Linked DNA regions of Homo sapiens: region 1 is linked to region 2. Evidence: fine-mapped expression QTL. Tissue or cell type: vagina. Region 2 holds a variant in brackets; the other region holds the start of a gene. All regions are shown on one strand. Distances are between the middles of the regions.

Region 1 (7,126 bases), 22 kb before region 2:
CCAGCTCTCCTGTTGAGTGGTTTTCCTTCTTTGGCCCTGGCTGGATGTCAGGTTCTTCCTGCCGCCTCCATGAAAGGCATCTGCCTTCAAGCCAGTGGGCTCTGAGACTTGCAGGTTCCTAAGGAGACAAGCTTAAAACAGATGCAAACAGTTTCTTTGAAGAATCATTCAGCTGGGTGCAAGCCCGCGGGCAGGAGGCGATGGCTTTAACAGGAGCACATGGACTTGTGCTCCCGAGAAGTCGAAGCAAGACAGGGAACCCGACGGGGGCTGGGGAGTCAACAGAGCCAGGTCTGCACAGGCACCCATCACCCAGGCCGTGCACGGCTGCATCCTGGGAGGCCCCGTCTCTCTCAGTAAAGCAATGGAAATGTGACTGGGAGCCACCTTAATTAATTAATTATTATTATTATTTGAGATGGAGTCTCGTTCTGTTGCCTAGGCTAGAGTGCAATGGCGCAATCTCAGCTCACTGCAACCTCTGCCTCCCCGGCTCAAGCGATTCTCCTTCCTCAGCCTCCTGCCTCCTGAGGAGCTGGGATTACAGGCGTGCTTTACCATGCCCGGCTAATTTTAGTATTTTTAGTAGAGATGGGGTTTCACTATGTTGGTCAGGCTGGTCTCAAACTTCTGACCTCATGATTTGCCTGCCTCAGCCTCCCTAAGTGTTCGGATTACAGGCATGAGCCACTGCGCCTGGCCAATTAATTAATTTTTTTGACGGAGTCTTGCTCTGTCACCCAGGCTGGAGTGCAGTGGTGCGATCTCCGCTCACCACAAGCTCCGCCTCCTGGGTTTAACGGATTCTCCTGTCTCAGCCTCCCAAGTAGCTGGGATTACAGGTATGTGCCCCCACATCCGGCTAATTTTTGTATTTTTAGTAGAGACGGGGTTTCACCATGTGGGCCAGGCTGGTCTCAAACTCCCGACCTCAGGTGATCCACCCGCTGTAGCCTCCCGAAATGCTGGGATTACAGGCATGAGCCACCGCGCCCGGCCAATTTTTGTATTTGTAGTAGAGACGGGGTTGCCCCATGTGGGCCAGGCTGGTATTTTTGGTTACAGGTTGTGTACTGGCTTGAATGAGACCCTCCTAAAAACACACATAAGCCCCAGGCAGGGCCTTATGTGGAAAAGGTCTCTGCGGATGTCATGAAGGATTTTGAGATGAGACCATCCTGGATTATCCAGGTGGCCCTAAAGCCAATGACAGGGGTACAAGAGACAGAGGAGGAGGCACAGAGGACACGGCCTGTGAAGATGGGGCAGAGACTGGGGTGACGCTGCCACGAGGAACCCCCAGAGGCCCCAGAAGCTGGAAGAGGTAAAGTGGGAACCCCCAGCCCAGAGCCTTCGAGGGAGTGTGCACCTTCACTTCAAGACTTCCAGCCCCCAGAACTGTGATAGGACTCATTTCTGTTGTTTCAAGCCGCCCAGCTCATGGGAATAAGATCATCCACAAAGTTGTCCCACTGGGGGCATCCATCATTCCCAAGGTGGCATGAGCCAAGAGGGTGCCAGGCCAGGAAACCATCGGTGGCCCCCAGGCTCCCCTTGTCAAGCGTCAGAACACCATGGACATGGAGAAGATGCAGAAAGCATCGGAGAGAACATCCTGGGCACATGGACGGGGTTGGGGCCTTAGGCCCCGGGGGACTGGCAGCCACCAGGACAGCGACGCTGGTGCCACACACAGAGCGGCGGATCTCGCAGCTTCCAACTGACAGTGAGTTCCATTTATTTATGTATTTATTTTATTTCGGTAGAGAAGGGTCTTGCTATGTTGCCAGGCTGTTCTCAAACACTCCTGGGCTCAAGCAATCCTCCCAGCTCAGCCTAGCCAAAGTGCTGGGTTTACTGGCGTGAGCCACTGAGCCTGCCTGATTTCCATTTAAAGTTGTGGGTCGGGGCAGGGTGTGGTGGCTCTCTCCTGTAATCCCAGCACTTTGTGAGGTCAAGGTGGGCAGATCACTTGAGTCCAGGAGATCGAGACCAGGCTGGGCAACATGGCAAAACCCCGTCTCTACTAAAATTACAAAAATCAGCCAGACGTGGTGGTGTGCACCTGCAGTCCCAGCTACTTGGAAGGCTAAGGCGGGAGGATCGCCTGAGCCGGGGAGAAGGAGGTTGCAGTGAGCTGAAATCGCGCCACTACACTCCAGCCTGGGTGACAGAGCAAAGAATAAAGACATTTTCAGACACACAAAGGCTTGAGAAATTTGTCCTCCAAGCACCCACTGTTGGATGCGGGGCTTCAGGAAAAGAAGGGAATAGGGAAGGACGGAGCTGCCGTGGGCACTGGCGAGGGCTGGAACCCAGCAGCGGACGGAGGAGGAGTTTCCGGGATGATGGGATGCTGCCTGCCCCATATCCCATCCATCAGCTCTGCCTGCAGAGACATGCCCTGAGTTCAGCTGCTTCTCTACACCCCCATTCCGCCCCAAGCTCATCCTCACAATGGCCACCTAGTCCCCTCGTCCGTGTCGCCCCCCTACCGTCTGCTCTCCTAACTGCACCAGCATGGACCCGTGCCTTCAATGGCTCCAGGAGATGCCTGCCACACAAGCAAAATCTTAGTCCCTGCGAGGGCCTTCTGTGGCCTGGCCCACTGCCTCACTCCCTCCAGGCCTCACCCCTGCATATGCCTCCCTCGGCTCCACCTCCCGGGCAACAGTTGCGGCCTCAGGCCTTTGCACCTGCCGTTTTCCTGCCAGTGAGACTCTTCCCTGGCTGTCAACACATTCAGGGCTCTGCTCTAAGGTGTTCTGTTCAGAGCTCTCACCTTACGTAAGACAGCACCCACTGCTCTCTGGCTCTTTTCTTTTTTTTTTTTTTTGGAGGAGTCTCGCTCTGTCACCCAGGCTGGAGTTCAATGGCACAATCTCCACTCATTGCAACCTCTGCCTCCTGGGTTCAAGCAATTCTCCTGCCTCAGCCTCCCAAGTAGCTGGGATCACAGACACATGCCACCACGCCCAACTAATTTTTGTATTACTATTATTATTATTATTATTCTTTTTTTAGGAGAGACGGGGTTTCACCATGTTGGCCAGGCTGGTCTCGAACTCCTGAGCTTGTGACCCACCCGTCTCGGCCTCCCTAAGTGCTGGGATTAGAGGTGTGAACCACTGTGCCCGGCCACTGGCTCTTATTTTCTTACCCTACCGGTTTTTTATTTTGATTCCTTTTTTTTTTTTGAAACAGGGTCTTGCTCTGTTGTCCAGGCTGGAGTGCAGTGGCAGTGAACATGGCTCACTGCAGCCTCAACCTCCCGGGCTCAAGCCATCCTCCCACCTCAGCCTCCTGAGTAGCTGGGATCACAGGCTCATGACACCGTGCCTGGCTAATTTTTAAATTTTTTGTAGAGACAGGGTCTCACTATTTTTCCCATTCTTGAACTTCTGGGTGCAAACGATTCTCCCACCTCAGCTTCCCAGTGCTGGAATTACCGGCGTGAGCCACCGGGCCCGGCCTCTGCCAGTTTTTCTGCTCGAGGCCTGTCACCTGGCATATTTCGTATGTACTTTATCTGTTCCCCCGATAGGTGAGCAGGAACTTTGCATCATTTGTTGCTCAGAAGGCTTGGTGCACCAAGCAGGCATTTAATCAATGTTTGTTGAATGGATAACTGTTCCCCAGCTTTTCCCACATCCATCACTGCTGAAATGGCGCCTCTTTAGGTGTCTTCCTGGATTGCCCCCTCCACAAAGATGAAGCCCCCCACACTCCGCTGCGGTGTACAGAAGGCACTGCATGTTGTAAATGTTCAGTGTCCGGCTGTCCAGCCTGGCGGCCACAGCCAAAGGTAGTACCGAGCCCTTGAGATGGGGCTAGTGCTGCAAGGGAACTGGACTTATTTAACTTCAGTTAATTTACAGAGCCACATGCGTCTAGCGCTTACCCTACTGGTCGCAGTTTTTATTCCACGACCCGGCCTCATTTACGGAGCTGCAATTGTTCAGATCTGACATGATCTCAACTGCTCTTTTACTTCCTTGTGTACCGTGCGTTTCCCTTACTGGCCTCTGACCCTTGAAAGCAGAGCCTTACATCCGGGGAAGACGAGCCAGGCCTGTCTTGGTAAACATCTGCCTTAGAGCGAACGCTCGGCGTTCTGGAGAGAATGTGGGACCCGAGGCGGAGGGAAGAGACGGCTGACATCACTCCAGGGTAGGGACGACCGAGATGGGAGAAACTAAGGCGAGAACCCACCACCCGGGCGCAGCGAACCCAGCTCGCAGCCACGTGGGGAAGCGCGGCCCTGCCCTCAGGCCCCGCCCCACTCACGCGTCAGGCCCCGCCCACCCCACCGCCCCCCGCTCCCGCGTCCAGGCTCCGCCCCGTCCCCGCGCAGCGCAGGCGCAGATGCGCCCTCCCGCCTGGCGTCCTCCGCAGATTCGCGCTGAGAGGCCCGCGGAGACCCGCCCCAGAGGCTCAAGAAAACCCGCGGGAGCCTCGCCCGGACCCAGGAACTCGTGCTCGGGGCCAACCGGCTGGGCCGCGATCGCGTTTCGTCCGGGGCCGCGGCGGCCGTGGGGAATCGGCTGCAGCGAATCGGTGGCGCGCGGCGCCTGAGCGCGCTGCAGTCACCCGGGAGCCGGGTCCAGGTCGGGTTGGGGGTCGGGGATCGGGGATCGGGGGTCCGGTTGGGTCGGGTTGGGCTCCAGGTCTGGTTGGGTCGGGTCCAGGTCGGGTAGGAGTCCGGTCGGGGTCCGGGTACAGGTCGGGGTCCGGGCCTGGATCGGGGGCGGGTCCGCGTGCGGCTCCTCTAGCCCCGAACCCGTGTTCCCCGTAAGCTGTTGGTTTCTAAGGGGCGGAGGAATGGCGACTGGAGCCACCTCTCACCGCTCAGGGAGCCGGGAGGGCCGGCAGCTCCCGCGGGCCGAGTTTCCCGCCTTGGGTGCGAGGACGCGTGGGGCCGCGCTGTGCCCGGGGAACACTCACCAGCATCTCTAGCCTCCACCTCCCTCTCGCGCCAGTGGCACTCCCGGTTGAGACAACTGAGAATGTTCCCTGGGCACAGTGGCCCGGGTTGAGAAGCCCTGCAGTGGCTGGTAGCGTTGGGGTCCGAGCGGAGGAGCGAACTCTGGGTGGAAACCGGCAGGCACTGGAGGGGAAGGAGGCGGGACAGGGTTGGGTGGGACCAGGGTTGAGGGGTGTGGGGTCTCGGGGCGCTCACCGAGGGGCTTCCTGAGCTTGTGTGGATTATTTCCGTGCCCCAAGCTGAGCCCTGTGTCCATGTCACAGGTCGTCTTCCCGTGACGCCCAGATCTGTCCTGCAGGATGGAGCCAGCACCCTCAGAGGTTCGACTCGCCGTCCGGGAAGCCATTCATGCCCTCTCGTCTTCGGAGGATGGCGGCCACATCTTCTGCACCCTGGAGTCCCTGAAGCGGTATCTCGGTGAGATGGAGCCTCCAGCGCTCCCGAGGGAGAAGGAGGAGTTTGCCTCGGCCCACTTCTCGCCTGTCCTCAGATGTCTTGCCAGCAGGCTGAGCCCAGCCTGGCTGGAGCTGCTGCCCCATGGCCGCCTGGAGGAGCTGTGGGCCAGCTTCTTCCTGGAGGGCCCGGCGGACCAAGCCTTCCTGGTGTTGATGGAGACCATCGAGGGTGCTGCGGGGTGAGTGGGCTGGGCCCATCCTGGGGTTGCCGGTAGCCTCAGAAGTGATGAGAGTGGCTTGAAGGACTGGACCAAGAGCCTCTCTAGTCCCTGTGAGGGGCTAGAGAGAGAGCCTGCTCCTGGCTGAACCCCTGAACAGAAGAAGCGGTCTGTGTCTGTCTCCTTTGCGACGGGAGGCACCTGCTGTGTCTCACAAAGTCCCCCACTTGCTCCCCGTCCGGCTGTGTCAGAGAGGGATGGGGTGGGAGTGTTCACATCCCAGGCGGCAGAGGCAGCCCGTCAGCTGGGGACGTTCCAGGTTTTCCAGGGAAGCACAGCTGTCATCACTGACACGTGTCCCATGTGGACTCCCAGCCCCAGCCGGCTCCCAGGCTCAGCCTCAGATCACACTGCAGTCCTTGCCGGGACACTGCATCTTGAGAAGCTGGGTTTTCAGAGGTTGCTGTGATCAAAGCAAGCACTGAGTTATCCGCGTCAGCAGCAGGGGAGGGGTGTCCAGTGAGACTCCAGGTTGGGGAAGCCGCTCAGGGCCCCGAGAGCTCTCACACAGTAATCGCAGTTATTTAGGAATGGATTAACAGATTTTCCCATCCGGCTTGTGGTTTTGGACTTCACGCTGGTTATGTTGTTGGGGCTGCCCGTGTAATCCGGGCTGCTGGTTCCTTGTGGCAGGAAGGGGGCCCCGAGGATGGGGGTTGGCGGCTCTGCCCAACACGCCCGTATCTTCAGCCCCAGCTTCCGGCTGATGAAGATGGCGCGGCTGCTGGCCAGATTCCTGCGCGAGGGCCGGCTGGCAGTGCTGATGGAGGCGCAGTGTCGGCAGCAGACGCAGCCCGGCTTCATCCTGCTCCGGGAGACGCTGCTGGGCAAGGTGGTGGCCCTGCCCGATCACCTGGGCAACCGCCTGCAGCAGGAGAACTTGGCCGAGTTCTTCCCCCAGAACTACTTCCGCCTGCTCGGCGAGGAGGTCGTCCGGGTGCTGCAGGCGGTTGTGGACTCTCTCCAAGGTGAGGCCCTGCCTCGGGGACCCCCTTTGCCACCCGTCTTCTTGGGTCCTCGTCCCCTGCCACCCTCTGGTGCCTCACGGCCTCTGGAGACTTTGGAGTCTCTGGTTGATGCCGTCAGGCAGGTGGGGATGTCCCTGTCCCGCACAGTAGTGACCGGCAGGGCTCATCCGCTGTGGGCTGAAGTCCGCTGCCCTCCACGCGGGCTTCTCTTGTCCCTGCAGTCCCTTGGGTTTCCAGGGCCCAACTGTGCTGTGGTGGCCAGGTGGGGGATCTCGAGGTTCTCAGGTCTGGAGGCAGACGCTGGCGGTGCCCTGGAGAGGGGGTGCTGTGGGAACGGCCTTGCCCGCTGCTGGGCTGCAGGGCCCCGTGAGCGCCCATGCTCGCTCTGTTTTCCCTGGGGCGCCAGATGGCGGCTGCCGCGAGTGTGCGTTTCACTAGCGAGAAGGAGGCTGGGCCGGGGGCCTGCACAGCACCCGGAGCGTCTGCCTCTCCCTGCAGGGT
Region 2 (8,964 bases):
CAGAGCCTAGCAGGGGGTGCAGCCGCCAAGGCCCGGGTGTCCCAGCTGTTGCTCAGGAGCCGTGGGCCCTGCAGGAGTATGGGGAGGATATGATGTGTGGGGAGCAGGGGGGCAGGTGCCCCAGCCCTCCAGCTGCAGCTTCCTGAGGTTCTAGAAGTTTCTCAGGCTTTACAATGTGTAGTTGGGAGAATACGATGGAAGGGTGAACCCGACTCCCTTCAAAGGAATGAATCCAAAAATCTAGTGGAGCTGCCGGGCACCCAGAGGCAGGTGGGACAGAGCAAGGTGCAGACGGGTCACACCCTCCGCCGGCCCGGGCCGCTGCGTTCTCGCCCAGCTCTGTCGCGTATTCCAACACAGACATGTTTTTTCCCAGCAAAAATGCTGGCTTTGCCACAGCTGACAAAAAAATTCCAGAAGATGCCTTTCTGCAGCAGCACGCTGGTCCTGGGGCCCAGGCCCCTCAGGGGTCGTCATCTGCCTCTTCCACCACCTCCTCGTCCAGCTCCCTGGCGTCCTCCATGCTGTTGTGGCGGACCTGCTCGGGGACGGTGCGTGGCAGTGGGAGACCCAGCCCCCGGTGCACGGCGTCCACGGCCTGCGGGCTCACGTAGTAGGACATGTTGGCCAAGGGAAGCCGCCGCCGCATCTCCTCCAGGAATCTGTAGGCCTGGGGCAGAGGAGCAGACATTACTCAGCTTTCCTGAACAACCAGGCACGACCCTCTGCCTGCAGGCCAGGCACGTGCTGCTGCCCCTGGAGGCGGGTGGGGGTGCCTCCGCGCTGGAGGACACGGGGTGCACTGAGGCTTCCCATTGGTGATGGGGGAATGTGGTGATGAGGGGATGCGGTGCCCGCGGACCGCACACATGCCATGTGTGGACACTCAACAGGAAGCTTCGGTCAGCATTTCAGCTGGAAATGCAGAGCCAGGGCCCTGGAAAGTCCCTCAGCAGCTGTGCACAGGCCTGCTCACCGTGCGTGTGCGGGCAGAGCCTCCTGGGGAGGCAGAGGCCCCGCGTTCTGCACTCGAGTCTTGCGGGTGGACATGCATATGTCAGAGTGGAGGGCAGGCAGCGATATCTACTGGTTTGGCTTGGGTATTTTTTTTTTTTGAGATGGAGTCTCAGCTATGAAGATATAATAAGCTTGTTGGATGGCCCCTCCCATCACCTGGCAGTGGACCTGCGTTTAAGGAAGGCCTCAGCTGGGGTGGGCGCTGGTGGAGTGCAAGCCTTCCACACAGTCTCAAACGAGAGGCTGAGGGCAAACATCCACACCTGAAAAGATGCTGCCTTACATGCTGACAAACCACCTGCCATGTGCCAGGCGCTGTGCTGGGGACACAGGGGACACAGGACGTAAGGGCACAGAACAAGCTTGGGTAATGCTGTAGTGGGGAGCCAGGTCAGGCCGAGGTCCTGCAGTGGCAGAATTCAGAGAAGGGCTGGCACAGGGAGGGAGAGAGAGGAAGGAGCTGACCAGGGTCGAAGAGGGACCCTGTGGTCAGAAAGGGCCGGCGTCCTGATGCAACCAGGGCCTGGTGCGTGTGACTGCTCTGTGTGCAGAGCTAGCTTCGGAGAGGGCAATCAAGTGGTTTCCAGAAGGCAGGCAGAAGGTGCGGAGGGCGGGTGAGGGGTGGTGGGGGGCAGGACAGGCGGCATAGGTGGGTGAGGGGTGGTGGGGGGCAGGATGGGGGGCAGGACAGGCGGCATAGGTGGGTGGGGGGCAGGATGGGGGGCAGGACAGGCGGCGTAGGTGGGTGAGGGGCGGTGGAGGGCAGGACGTGGGGACAGAAATGTTGCCGGTCTCCAGCATCAGGAGGGTGTGTGCGGGCTGTGCTCAGATGATGGATGATGGCGGGAAAGCTGAGCGGATATAGGAGCTGTGGCCTGGGTGAGGTGGTGCACGTGACCCCGGGTGGCGCTACAGCAGCAGCCAGGGAGCGTGTGCCTGGGCATTCTCAGTTTAGCTGCGCTTCCCAGTTTCTTTTTTCTTTTGTATCTCGAGTTACTAAATTCCACAGGCTTCAAGCAACCATAGAGAGAATAAAGAAGTTGGCGAAATATTTAAAATGTGGATTTCCTGTTAATTTTGAGGATATAGCAGTCTGGGCATCTCTCTACTCCAATTTTGCTTTTATACGGAAAACTATAGTTCTCCTAGAAATAGAAACCCCGTTGGAGCAGGGCGCGGTGCTGCACACCAGCCACTCACGAGGATCCCTTGAACCCGGGAGGCTGAGGCTGCAGGGAGCTGTGATTGTGCCACCGCACTCCAGCCTGGGCGACAGAGCAAGACCTCGTCTCAAAACCAAACCAAGCAACAACAAAAAAGAAACCTTGTTAGGATTAGACTTGAGTTGTTTTTTCCAGCAGCAAAAGGGGTCAGTGAATGGAAGTGGAACGGCGCAGAGGGGAGTGAGCAACCGGGCCAGGAAGTCTGTGTCTCACGGAGCTGACCTTTCAGCCCTGAGGGAGAGCCACTGCCAAGGAGCTTTCCTGTGAATTCTGGAGGCTGCAGCCCAGCGAGCCCGACACGGTCGCCAGCATGTTTCCCAAGCTCATTTCTCGATACTCAGTTTGTGAGTCCCGGGAACTATCTAATAGGGCAACACAACTGGTGGGTGCAGAGGCCCTGCAGGCATCGGCATAGCTGCAGGGTCTGACGGATGCAGGCGCGTGCAATTCTCTATGTTGGCTACAACAGAATTATGGTTGAAAAAGAGGCCGGGCGCGGTGGCTCACGCCTGTAATCCCAGCACTTTGGGAGGCCGAGGTGGGCGGATCACGAGGTCAGGAGATCAAGACCATCCTGGCTAACACGGTGAAACCCCGTCTCTACTAAAAAATAAATAAATAAATACAAAAATTAGCTGGGCGTGGTGGCGGGAACCTGTAGTCCCAGCTACTTGGGAGGCTGAGGCAGGACAATTGCTTGAGCCCAGGAGGCGGAGGTTGCAGTGAGCCACGATCATGCCACTGCACTCCAGCTGGGCAACAGAGCAAGACTGTCTCAGAAAAGAAAAAAGAATGAGAAGAGAGGCTTCTGACAACAGCAGCACGACTCCTGTGAGAGCAGCCCTCCCCCTAATGACGACGGACACATGGAAAGGCACTGGGGGCAGCCGTGAGCAGGCTGATGCTGGGAGTGGGTGGCACTGGGCAGGCTTCCTGCTTCTCACAACTTTCTTTTTTTTTTTTTCTTTTTTGAGACGGAGTCTTGCTGTGTCGCCCAGGCTGGAGTGCAGTGGTGCGATCTCTGCTCACTGCAAGCTCCGCCTCCCGGGTTCACACCATTCTCCTGCCTCAGCCTCCCAAGTAGCTGGGACTACAGGCGCCCACCACCACACCCGGCTAATTTTTTGTATTTTTAGTAGAGACGGGGTTTCACCGTGTTAGCCAAGATGGTCTCCATCTCCTGACCTCATGATCTGCC[C/T]GCCTTGGCCTCCCAAAGTGCTGGGATTACAGGCGTGAGCCACTGCACCCGGCTGCTTCTCACAACTTTCTGCCTCAGGGTAGGCCCAAGTCAGGGCCAGTGTGGGCATCAGCCACCTCGAAGCCTGCCCTCTTCCAGGCTTAAAGAATCAGAATCAAGATTTTTGTTGGCCAGGTGCGGTACCTCACGCCTGTAATCCCAGCACTTTGGGAGGCCAAGGTGGGTGGATCACGAGGTCAGGAGATCGAGACCATCCTGGCTAACACGGTGAAACCCCGTCTCTACTAAAAATGCAAAAAAAATTAACTGGGCGTGGTGGCGGGCGCCTGTAGTCCCAGCTACTCGGGAGGCTGCAGCAGGAGAATGGCATGAACCAGGGAGGCGGAGCTTGCAGTGAGCCGAGATCACGCCACTGCACTCCAGCCTGGGCGATAGAGCGACACTCCATCTCAAATAAATAAATAAATAAATAAATAAAAGATTTTTGTTGACCACAGCAGCTGGAATGTGAAGGTGGAAACGTTGGGATGCAGCAGGCATAGAGGGGATCCCAAATCCTGAGCATATGCTGCCCTCGTCACTAGTTGCTCCCACACTACACATGAGGCAGGGGAGGTGCAGACTTTAAGCCAACTCACGCTACAAGCAGGGATTTCAGCTGCTATCCACCACAGGGGAAAGAGTTTCGGCTCTGAGCTGAGCAAAGGTGATTGCCTAATAAAATGAACCAAAAAAAAGCAATACTCTTTGGAGGAATGTAACAGAATCCAGAGTCTCTACAATGGATTATCCACAATGTCCATGATACAAAAAAATGACTAGACATAAGAAACAGGAAAATTTGACCCATACTCAAAAGGCAAGTAATGGAGATCAATCCTACATGACCCAGATATTGGAACCGGTAGCTAAGATTTTACAGCAGCAGTTACAACTCTGCTTTAGGATATAAATATAAAATATATTTTAAACAAATTAACAAATAGGGAATTTTAGCCAATAAATAATAAAAAGAACTAAGTGTAAATTCTAGGGCTGCAAAATACAAGCTCTAAAAAGATTGCTGGAGAGGTTAACAGCAGATTGAAGATAGCTAAAGAAAGTCTAGATAAATACAAATTAATCCAAAGGACAGAAAAAAAGAAAATAATGAGCAGTAATCACAAATGTGTGTCTACTAGATATGGAAGACCTAACATTTAATTGGAGTCCCAGAAGGAGAAAAAGAGCAAATTTCCCAAATTTGGCAAAACACAAATATAGATCCCAAAAGCCCAGGATAAATACAATGAAAACACCTAGGAACATCATTATCGCACTGCTGAAACACAAATTCAAGAAGAAAGTCATGACAGCAGCCAGTGCAGTGGGAGATGGAGAGACACATGACATGTAAGGGCCCCACAGACAGCCCATAGCTGACTCTTCCAGAAACAATGGAGGCCCAGACAGGGAAAACATTCAAGTGCTGAAAGGAAAAAAATCTGTCAAATCAGGATTTTTTTTGAATCAGGATCTTGCTTTGTCACCCAGGCTGGAGTGCAGTGGTGCTATCACAGCTCACTGCAGACTCAACCTCCTGGGCTCAAGCAGTCCTCCCACCTCAGCCTCCCAAGCAGCCAAGACTGCAGGTGCATGCCACCATGCCTTGCTATTTTTTTCAGAGATGGGGTCTCACTTGTTACCCAGGCTGGACTTGAACTCCTGGCCTCAAGAAATCCTCCCACCTTGGCCTCCCAAAGTGCTGAGATTACAGGCATGAGCCACTGTGCCTGGCCTCAGAATTCTCTATCTGATGAGAACAACCTTGAAGAATACAGGCAAAATAAATACATTTCAGATTAACGAAAAGTAAGAAAATTCATCATCAGGAGATCTGAACTAGAAGAAATGTTAAAGGGAGCTCAGGCTGAAGAGGAGTGATACCACATGCAAATCGGAATCATAGGGAAGAAGTAAGAACACCAGAAATGACGCTTTGGGAGGCCGAGGCAGGCAGATCACCTGAGGTTGGGAGTTTGAGACCAGCCTGACCAACATGGAGAAACCCCATCTCCCCTAAAAATACAAAATTAGCCAGGCGTGGTGGCGCATGCCTGTAATCCCAGCTACTCCGGAGGCTGAGGCAGGAGAATCACTTGAACCTGGAGGGTAGAGGTTGTGGTGAGCTGAGGTTTGTTGCCCACTCCAGCCTGGGCTACAAAGAGCAAAACTCTGTCTCAAAAAAAAAAAAAAAAAAAAAAAAAAAAAAAAAAAAAAACACCAGAAATGGATGGTAAATATGTAGGTAAATGTAAAAGACTATTTCTTTCCTTTTAATTTCTTCAAAATACATATGACTGTTGAAAGCAACAATTATAACACTATACTGTGTTTATAATACATGTACATGTTACACATACGACAAATACAGGTGGGGACACGGGTGGGAAATGGACCTACCTGCTAACTCTAGTGTGGTAAGTATGTTTATGGTAATCTCCAGGGCAAACACTAGAAATACAATGCAAAGAGGAGTAGAGATAAAAAGCTGATAGCTAAAATGAAATTATAAAAAATAGTCCACTAAGGCCAGGTGCGGTGGCTCACGCCTGTAATCCCAGCACTTTGGGAGGCCGAGGCGGGCGGATCATGAGGTCAGGAGATCGAGACCATCCTGGCTAACACGGTGAAACCCTGTCTCTACTAAAAATACAAAAAAATTATCTGGGCGTGGTGGCGGGCGCCTGTAGTCCCAGCTACTCGGGAGGCTGAGGTAGGAGAATGGCGTGAACCCGGGAGGCAGAGCTTGCAGTGAGCCGAGATTGCACCACCGCACTCCAGCCTGGGCGACAGAGCGACACTCTGTCTCAAAAAAAAAAAAAAAAAAAAATCAACTAAAAAGAAGGCAGGAAAAAAGGTTTAAAGTAACAATAATAAAAACTGGTAGAAAAAGTTGACTGGTAGAAAACTGACATGAAAAAGATGGATGGGATTACCATCAGAGTGAGACACTGCAGAAGGAAAGCTGGTAAACTTGAAGCAACAGAAATGGCAAATCCCTAAAATGAAAAACAGAAAAAGTCCTTGGGGGAGAAAAGAAGAGCATCAGTTGAGCTAGGGGATGGTACTGTATATACAAGTCATTGGAATTTCAGAAGCAGAGGAAAAAAGGAATAGAAGGGAACTTCGGCCAGGCGCGGTGGCTCACGCCTGTAATCCCAGCACTTTGGGAGGTGGAGGCGGGTGGATCACTTGAGGTCACGAGTTCAAGACCAGCCTGGCCAAATGGTGAAACCCCATCTCTACAGGCATGCTGATGCACACCTGTAGTCCCAGCTACTTGGGAGGCTGAGGCAGGAGAATGGCGTGAACCCAGGAGGCGGAGCTTGCAGTGAGCCGAGATCGCGCCACTGCGCTCCAGCCTGGGCAACAGAGTGAGACTCCGTCTCCAAAAAAAAAAAAAAAAAGTACAATAATAAGAAAACCCAATAAAATGATGAGAAGAGACTTGAAGCCTTCACAGAAGGTGTGTAAATGGATAATAAGCACATGAGAAGGAGCTGCACATCACTACTCATCCAGAAAATGTGAATTTAAACCTCAGCAAGGTACTGTTCACCCCCTAGGATGGCTACAGTTCGAAAGAATGATCAAATGTTGGTGGGGATGAGGAAAACGCTAGAACACTGCGGCTGAATAAGTGATTAGCTGGTCACTTTAAAGTGACTACACGCTGTCTCTAAAATTAAAAAATAAGCGACTAAAAAATGGAACACCATTTTCTTTTTTTGTGAAAATCCCTGAAAAAGAAATCGTGGTTATTCAGACTCGGGTACATGCAGACATTTCTTCACAAATAAAGTAAGTCTGTCGCTTTCCTGCGACACTGCTAGTAACAGCCAGTAACAGCGTGAGACTGTTACTTTTTGCTACCGACAGATTTTTTTTTTCTTTTGAGACAGGGTCTCGCTCTGTCACCCAGGCTGGAGTGCAGTGGCGCCATCAGATCTCACTGCAGCCTCAACCTCCTGGGCTCAAGGGATCCTCCCACCTCAGCCTCCCAAGCAGCTGGGACCCCAGGTGTGAGCCACCATGCCTGGCTAATTTTTCCCCTTTTTGTAGAGATGGGGTTTCACCATGTCGCCCAGGCTGCTCTTGAACTCCTGGGCTCAAGTCATTCTCCTGCCTCAGCCTCCCAAAGTGCTGGGATTACAGGAGTGAGCCGCCACACACAGCCTCAGTTTGAGCCGTTAAGCCTTCGTTTCAGGAGCCTTGTGTGGCGGGATGCTGCTAGTGAGCAGCACTCAGGCCTCACCGTCTGGTATTCCTCCTTCCGCACGTAGTGCTCCACCAGGAAGCCATAGACGTCCCCGATGCGGATGGTGCTGTCCAGGTCTGGTTCCTCCAGGAGCAGCTCACACTGCTTGATGGACTCCTTGGGGTCCTCTGTGTACGTCCTGCCGAGAGCAGAGATGAGGCCTGGGCCCCGAAGCCCTGAACACCTACTGCTATCAGAGGTCAGAGGAGACTCTTGGCCTGTAAGAGGAGCTCTCCGGAATGGCAGGAGGAAACTTTCTATGAAGTTAAATTCATTAATTCCTTAATTTGTTCATTCATAAATTAACTCATCCATGTAACATTCTTACTGATCACTTGAATGCTGGGTCCTATGCTTGGACTGAAGACCAAAGACTTCCGACCCCTAGTTCCTGCTCTATGGAACAGTCCAGAGGGGGCTAGAAACCTCTGCACAAAGCGTGACCCAGAGGGGATGTGGTGCATGTGGACAGGGTACACGGAGAGGCGCACGGCACCCCTTGCCCAAGGCCGCTGGGAAGAACCCTCCAAGCAGAGAGGCTGCCCGCACACAGGCTGCGTGTGTGACCTGGCGTGAGGGTCTGTGGCAGAGCAGGGTGTGTGGCCTGTGAGCTGGGGTGACACCAGGGAGGTGAGCCTGCTGGAACACAACATGGTCCAGGGCAGGTGACTGGAGCCGTGTGGAGCTCAGGCTCCCATGTCAGGAGGGTCCAGGGCCCATCTGGCCACCCACTGACTCGGCCATTCCAGACAGGCGCCTGGCCTGCCCTCTGACCCCTGGCCCATAGAAGGTTGCCCACCCTGGCCCTCACACGTCGTCTCCCCTCCACCCACGTCCTGTGCTATCCCTGATGACCAGCTGCTATCGATTCTCCTCCGCTCCTGCCCTGTGGCCTCAGCTCAGCAGACATCTGTGAGACGCTGATACCCCAGAATCGACACGTGCAGGTGGACCGTGCCCTTCCAAGGGGCACCGCTTTGTACGACCTTGTTCAAAGGACTTCTGGAACTCTTGTTTTGGAAAAGGTTCTCCGATAAGGAAAACAGCCCTGCCAGCTGAGACAGAAGCTGGGCCCTGAAGCGCACAGGCGAGTGCCCACCGTGGTGGCCACACAGCAGCTCTCTGAAAAGCTGAGTCACCTGCCCATAATAAAGATGGGGAGGTGTTCAAATAAACTTAGCATCTTGGCCTCTCCTGAAAACCGAGACCATCGGCTGGCTGCCTGG

What was found. PIP is the estimated chance that this variant, and not a neighbour inherited with it, causes the effect.
Region 1: it holds the start of TELO2, and the variant in region 2 is fine-mapped to the expression of TELO2 in vagina (GTEx, PIP 0.94).

What each region holds. Positions count from the first base shown.
Region 1 is chr16:1,488,999-1,496,124 of GRCh38, forward strand. It overlaps TELO2 (telomere maintenance 2), which reads left to right and starts at 4,362. Exons shown (of 21, transcript NM_016111.4): 1 at 4,362-4,607; 2 at 5,248-5,618; 3 at 6,348-6,625. The coding sequence starts at 5,284. RefSeq lists enhancers at 4,020-4,069, 4,167-5,067, 5,969-6,869, 6,870-7,126 and silencers at 4,280-4,369, 4,540-4,589, 4,600-4,799.
Region 2 is chr16:1,510,481-1,519,444 of GRCh38, forward strand. It overlaps IFT140 (intraflagellar transport 140), which reads right to left. Exons shown (of 31, transcript NM_014714.4): 30 at 7,736-7,877; 31 at 1-670. The coding sequence ends at 464. Among named protein-coding and RNA genes, the nearest start is that of TMEM204, 19 kb to the right of the region's middle. The variant C/T (reference allele first, on the strand shown) is at 3,439.